2 separate regions of the Homo sapiens genome follow, and region 2 is reported to be linked to region 1. The links are microRNA targets in miRTarBase. Many come from high-throughput screens and were not tested one by one. Region 1 holds a microRNA gene; the other region holds the end of a gene's coding sequence.

What was found. Region 1 holds the annotated microRNA hsa-miR-2116-3p (CCUCCCAUGCCAAGAACUCCC, at 2,722-2,742, opposite strand). A microRNA usually pairs through its seed, bases 2 to 8, with sites in the 3' UTR of a target mRNA and lowers its output. Matches are read on the target gene's strand: a 7mer-m8 pairs with bases 2 to 8, a 7mer-A1 pairs with bases 2 to 7 and ends in A, and an 8mer does both.
Region 2: miRTarBase lists LRRC15 as a target of hsa-miR-2116-3p. Seed matches in the 3' UTR shown: 8mer at 1,578-1,585.

The regions. Positions count from the first base shown.
Region 1 is chr15:59,168,471-59,172,878 of GRCh38, forward strand. MIR2116 (microRNA 2116) reads right to left here and starts at 2,792; the gene lies at 2,713-2,792. It overlaps MYO1E (myosin IE), which reads right to left. Exons shown (of 28, transcript NM_004998.4): 22 at 3,427-3,572.
Region 2 is chr3:194,356,509-194,359,508 of GRCh38, forward strand. It overlaps LRRC15 (leucine rich repeat containing 15), which reads right to left. Exons shown (of 2, transcript NM_130830.5): 2 at 1-3,000. The coding sequence ends at 2,790. Among named protein-coding and RNA genes, the nearest start is that of CPN2, 6.7 kb to the left of the region's middle.

The sequences.
Region 1 (4,408 bases):
GGAGGGCGAGGCTGCAGTGAGCCGAGATTGCGCCACTGCACTCCAGCCTGGGTGGCAAAGTGAGACCCCGTCTCAAAAAAATAAAAAGTAGTATAGAATGAACCACCACATGTCAGATTTCAAGCACCAATTCACGGATAATCACAATTATCTACAACCTCACTCTCCCTGCTTCCACTTTAAAATAACTACCAGGCTGGAGTGCAGTGGTATGATCATGACTCATTGCAGCCTTGACCTATTGGGCTCAAGCAATCCTCCCACCTCAGCTTCCTGAGTAGCTGGGACCACGGGCACGTACCACCACTCCTGGCTAATTTTCACATTTTTTGTAGAGATGGGTTCTTACTATGTTGCCCAGGTGGGTCCCAAACCTCCTGGGGTCAAGCGAGCCTCCTGCCTTGGTCTCCCAAAGTGCTGGGATTACAGGCGTGGGTCACTGCGCTCAGCCTTTATTTCATGCTCAAATGTTTCAGTACATATTATTAAAAGATAAAGTCTCTTTATATTAAAATTAACCACAAAACATTATCATACCTACAGAAATAAACAATAAATTCTTCATACCAAATATTTAGTCATGCTCACATGTTGTCTTGTAACTGTTACTGAATGGTTGGTTGGTTTGAATAGGGAGCTGTAGGCCCACTGTGCACTGACATTAATTGTAAGAGCTAGAGATGGGCTAAGATCAAGCTTATGGGATACTTTGATAAATCGTAACTAGGAGGCCATATGTTGATATCATTCCAGCCAATAGTCAACTGGTCAATCTCAGAAATTCTTAAAAACACATACAGATGTTGCAGCTTTTTTCCTGAAGTACAAGCCAACTGTTAAAATCTTTCTCTATGCCAGTACTGAAGTATTTTGAGAACACACACGCATGTTCAGTAGTCTGGTACCAGAATTAATTTCCACTCTGGGTTCGATTCTGCACACACATCACCCTCTGGTTGCTTTCCTAACTTGGTTCTGATTACTGGCCTAACTCAAGTATAAAGAAATGAGGGGACACTATTATTCATCTTGGCAAGTGTGAGGTTCAGTGACTGCAATACACAGACATCACAAGTTCAAATGACTCACACTTTCTTTTTTTTTCCTTAGAGTCAGAAAAACTTTTAGGCTAAGTACCTCATTTTACTACAGCCTTTAAAAAGGAAAGACCGCAAGAAAGGAACCTTCCAGATAATGAATACTGAACAGGAAGAAGAAAAAGAAGCTGGTGCTCCCATGACAGATTATATCCCCAGAGGCTGTAAAAGAAGACAATAAACAAACAAAAAACAATAAAAGGAAGAAATTTGAGTGTGAACAGTCCCTACAGTCCCTGCTTGACAACCCCCTCAAGGACTTATCAATAAGATAGTAAGTGTCAAAGTGCTTGATACAAGTGTAGCTCAAGGCCAGGCACGGTGGCTCACGCCTCTAATCCCAGCACTTTGGGAGGCTGAGATGAGTGGATCACTTGAAGTCGGGAGTTCAAGACGAGCCTGGCCAACGTGGTGAAACCTTGTCTCTCACTAAAAATACAAACATTAGCCAGGGGTGGTGGCTCAGGCCTGTAATCCCAGCTACTCGGGAGCCTGAGGCAGGAGAACCACTTGGACCAGGGAGGCAGAAGTTGCAGTGAGCTGAGATCACGCCACTGCACTCCAGCCTGGGTGACAGAGCGAGACTCTGTCTAAAACAAAACAAAACAAAACAAAACAAAACAACCACACAAATGTAGCTCAATTAGGATAATTTATGGTCCCAGTCATGAGCACTCCACCAGGGGTCTGAGGGACTGAAGACATACCTGGGCAATAACAGAAAGAACAAGTCACTCTCGGCACAGCGACTACACACACCCTAGAGCTGTGGTTCCCTGACTTTCACCTGCTGTGCCTGCCAAGCACGCTGTGGCCAACCTGGCTTAGTCCAGGCATGGCAGGGCCCCATGCAATGACAAACAAAGCAGGAGCTTCCTGTTGGGTTTCCACGGCAGCCTCAGGGCCCAGCTAGCCAGGAAGAGTGTGGCCAGCAGGCACTGCCCCGCTCAGGTTGGGACCCAGCCAGTGAGCTGAATGTTTAGGAAGGCCTTCAGAAAATCAGTCAGCGCCTAGAGCTTTAAAAAAAAAACAAAAAAAACAATAGCCTTGAAACCTACCTGAGGTGGGGCTGCAAAATGGACACTGCGGACTCATCTGCTTAGCAACTTTACCACATCCTGAGTTGGCACGTTTTAAATACTTCACTGCACTGCACTGCCTGGTCCTTTATCCAGGGAAATTAGGAACAGATAGAATCAGAAACCACAGAGACACAGGCAAGAATGGATGCAACTAGAAATCTGTTTTGGATTATCAGACTGGAACTAGGATTTCCAGCTTGGTACATCAGACGCCTGAGCACATAAAACCCCTGCTTTTTCCTGAGCGCACCAGTTTTGCCTTCTGTGTGGAGTAAGAGTTTGACAGGCGTCCCAATTCCATGTTCATGTGAGAGCAGAACATCTTTAATGCAAAGGCCCAAAGCTTTTCCTGATTAAAGTAGTGTTAGCCTCAGAGGCCCAGGGACACGATTCTTGGAGGAAGCTATGGGGCTCAAGGAGGCCTTTCTTCCATTCTTAGTCTTCATGGATTGCGAGGATTTCCTGTGTCAGCGGAACTTAGTCTAGGAGTTCTTACCATGGGAGGACTTCGGGAGGACTTAGCATGGGAGGACTCCTAGTCTGGGAGTTCTTGGCATGGGAGGACTTCTTAGCATGGGAAGACCTCCTATGCTAAGAACCCCTAGCCTAGGTCCCACTGACGGAGGAGATGCTGACGGCCGGCAGAGGAGCCCTTCTGCCGAGAGGAAGCCAAGGTGCTGCCGGGAGGAGCAAGGGCCCTTCCTGAGGCCTTGTGGAAGCAAACACCACTCCCCACTGCCTGAGAATTGGAGCGAAGAGAGCATCTCACGATGACTCCAGGGCTACAGAGAATGGAGACCAACTTGCACTCCCTAAGGAAGTCCCAAAGAAACTTCCCTTTCAGGACCCTCTGCTCAGGGAAATGGGTGAGGCCTCCAACCTGGGTGAGGTGGACTGGGGGACAGGGCTCTGAATCCTTGGCTCTACTGCAACAAGAGAAATTATTCTCTGAGGTGTTCCATATACCGGGTTCATTTCTAACACGTTTCGGTTACAAGAGATCTGGGTCCCCCTTGATTAGAGGAGCTGTCCGGAGGCAACCTTTTCTTGGTACCTTCTTCCTGACATATCAAGACTTGCTGAGACTAGGGAGTCTTCCCTTTGGGACAAAGGGAAATTCCATTCTCTTGATCATGATTTTGACAGCTGGGAAGCCCAGCCCGGCCTTCCTCCTGGCTGTTTGGAACAGCGGACCGTGATGCTGAGGCGAGAAGGGGCAGTCCTGCCTCTGCACCTCCACTACTCACCTGAGGGACACAGACAAGATCCGTTCTATCTCGATTTTCCGCTTCAGGACTTCTTTCACCAGGCCCTTGTCTGGGCCCTGTTTGACTTTTTCTCGTCCGATTAAGTACAAGCACTTTGGGGTAAGGAGCAGGTCTCGCTTTACACCCTGTAAGGAGAGGAGCTTTAAGAAGCTGGACAGGCCAGGCATGGTGGCTCACACCTGTAATCCCAGTACTTTCGGAGGCCGAGGCGGGTGAATCACCTGAGGTCAGGAGTTCGAGACCAGCCTGACCAACATGGTGAAACCCCGTCTCTACTGAAAATACAAAAATTAGCTGGGTGTGGTGGTGGGCGCCTGCAATCCCAGCTACTTGGGAGGCTGAGGCAGGAGAATCGCTTTAACCTGGGAGGTGGAGGTTGCAGTGAGCCGAGATTGCGCCATTGCACTCCAGCCTGGGTGACAGAGCAAGACTCCGTCTCAAAAAAAGGTGGACAGACATGGTCAATGTGATGACAACAATTCACACAGTGGACTGCTGTTACCAGGACAGGGGGAAGCTGCCTTGGACAGTCAATCTTCACTACTGTTGAGAGGCCATTCCATTCATCACATGACCGGGCCCCATGACAGTGAAAGAGGGCATTGTTCATGATTATTAGGATGACATGTAAAAAATGATGACATTTGACTCTTTTTGACTTAAAAACTGGCAAACTCATATGGAGTCACTTCACATATCAGGACAGCAGGTGTAAAGGGAAAGTCACCAACACCTGTGGTGAACTTAGCAAGGATGCACTACAGCATGTTTCTAAACAGGGGGCAGTGTCTGCATATATTTTCTTGGGAGTTCATAAAATTTTCATTCTAAAATACTGATATATTGTCATTTGAATGATAATTCTCAATAATCTAATAGAAATCTACTTGGGAATTTGTGGGTAACCACTTTATAATGAGTACCGCTGCGAGAGCTAAGCACCCCTGTGTGCATCCAGGGC
Region 2 (3,000 bases), not on the chromosome of region 1:
AGAGAGGTTGAAGGGCCCGCTGAAGAAAAGGAGGCCAATGGCTCCATCCAACCACTCTGATGGGAGAAAGGAAGAGGCAAGAGGTTCACATAAGGGGGCCCTCACCCCTCACCTAGGGTGCTCCTGGGTGGTGTCATCTGAGGACAGTGGCCCTCAGGTCAGCCTCTGGCTGGAGAGGAAGGTGCTCCAATGTCATGGCTACTGCCAGGAATACCTAAGGGTTCTGGGTTAAGATTGGCAGGGCCCACCGGATGATGAGGTTTCCCACCTCCCTCCAGCCCTGGCCCACTTGTGCCTATGCACAAAGACATCTGGAGGCCACTCACAGGAGCACCCGACAGGTCTGTGGGCAAACCCATGCTTCCTGTCTGGAGGGGTACGGGCCGGGATGCCCCTGTTGGCACCAGGCACAGCAGGCCACCATCAGCGGGTGATGCTCATGTGCCATGCTCTGGGCTCACTTCCTGTTGGCTCTGGCAAGCCTTGGTGCATGTCCTCCAGGTGCCACCAATAGTGTGGAAATGCCTTGGAGACCCTGGGGGGATGACATCTCTTGACTCTGACGGGCCTCATCTCTCCTAGATTCCCTGGGACAGAGGGTGAAAAGCTACAAAGTGCACTAGTGTTTGCAAACAGCCCTCTGGACACTTTTTGTGCAGGAACTGGAAGGGAAAACTGGTCAGCACGTGCTCCTGTGGCCCTGGAGGATGTCACAGGTGTCTTGTGGAGCGGGGAGCTAATAAGAGCCGATCGGGATTGGTGGTAGATTTCCAGATCACAGGTGTCTTGTGGAGCGGGGAGCTAATAAGAGCCGATCGGGATTGGTGGTGGATTTCCAAAGCACAGGTGTCTTGTGGAGCGGGGAGCTAATAAGAGCCGATCGGGATTGGTCGTGGATTTCCAGATCCCCGTGGAGTCAGCTGAAGTTCTTTCCTGGGCAGACGTGGAGACCTGAAATTCTCCATTTCACTGTAAACTGGGCCAGTTGTCCAGAGAAAGACACACGTTGCCATGAGCCTAACTTCTTGAGCGCCATGTGAATATGTGTATAGCAGGAAAGCCAGAGAAGGCAGGTATTCGTGTGACTGTGACTCGAGGAGGAGAATAACCCTGGAGCAAACAACTCAACTCCTAACCAGACCACACGCAGGAGGAGCTCCAGGGAGCCCCCAGACCCAGTGTGACCCATCGGTGTACCCCCGTGTCGCCTGCTGTAAGTGAGATTCTGAAGTTCAGCTGCCAGCTGACTGTGATGTTGATGGAGAATTTTACCACATTAGAAAGACACTAGATTCCGTTACACTTCGTTTTCAATTAAAGGATCTCATCTCTGAGCGATTTCACTTCCCCTAAGTGAAGAATGAAAATTAAAAACAGATACAGGCATATCACGTCCATAGAAGGCTCCAGGCGGAGGGGCCTCCGATGAGCCGCAGACAGCTTGCTGGCAGGGAAGAGGGTGTGGCTGCACGGACCTCTGCAGTCAGGATGCTTCTGACCTGGCCAGCCATGGTGCCCCAGGTCTCAGGGTCTCTCAGGGTCTCCAGATATAATAAAATCTCCTGTTCAGGCCACAGTCTCCCATCCTGTCCACACCCACATATTCTCCTCCACCCCTGGCCACGGGGCCTTTGCACAGGCTGACTGTGGGGGGACCGTCCTGGCTCATGGGGGGCAGGTCCCAGGTAAGTCCATCTTCAGAAGCCCCCATCTCCTCTGGGAAAAGCCCAGGATGGGGGATATTTGTGATGCTCTGGGTCTGGGTCTAGATGCTGATTACACAGGTATGTTCAGTTTGTGAAAATCCACCAAGCCATACACTATCATGTTCCCACTTTTCTGCACGTACACTTCACATGCTTCAATTAAAAATTTTAAAACAAACTCTAGGGGTGAACACAGGGACCCCCAGGCACCAGATTTCTTTCTCTATCCCGTATTAATAAGCTGATTTTAATGTTTTTAGAAGTCCAAAATTCTACATGATTTCATTCCTTAAAGGGCTAAACTTTTCAAAGCAAAGTTTGCAGTTTGGAAATATCCTTCTCTAAAAGGCTGAGCTTGCTGTGCTGGGGTGTTTCTTCCTTTTCCAGATAAAAATCACAAGTGAGACACTGATGACGGCTCTTCTGTCTCCAGGAACTGAGCGGCATGATTTTCCTTCTCTCTTTCATAGCATCCCCAAAACCAGGCTGATTGACGGCTCTTAAGAAACCAGTTAAATGGTTTGAAGTCTTCTTTGAGGAGAGAACTCACCCTGCCTTCAGGAGCAGAAAATCAAGGGGAGAACTTTCATTTGAGGGGACATGCTGGGTCAAGCCGTAGCACAAACAAGAGAAACAAAAGAAGGGAAATCAACTTACATAATACTTAGGCGAGAGGGGCTATCTCAGCGGAGAACTATTCCCACGAAGTGAGCAGGCTGTGGACTAACTGAGTCTACAGAGGCCCGGAGGGGGCCTGGGCGCAGGGAAGGCTGTTCTTGGAGGACAGGTGGGGAGGATTTGGAGGAAGAGCCCTCTCGAAGGAAGCCCAGGGGTATGAATCGGAAATCCCCAGGGCTTTTGCCATGGCCAGTTGGATCTATCTTCCTGATTGTAGGAAGGTCCGGCACGACCTGCTTCTCTACGGGAGAATCAGGCAAGTCAGGAAGAGGTAGGCTCACCTTTCTCTGGGGCCAGAAAGAGCAATCACGGGAAAGCTCCATGGACCCAGGGGTGGAGGCAGAAAGATGAAATTCCCAGGTCCTCCAGTCCCATCATTCCCCAGCCCTGCTCCAGCCTGCCTCTTTAACACTCATTGGGTGCCTTCATCTGCATCAGGACAGCTTGGCTCCTCTTCTTGCAGCAGCAACAGCCGACGCAGGCAGCCAGGGAGCAGGCCAGGGCGACAATGCCAATTACAATGGCGGCAATGGCCAGCCCGCTCTGGGCCTGGGTCATGCCCCAAACGCTGCGGTCATCAGTGACCTGAATGGTAGTCAGATCAGTGTAGTCTTCC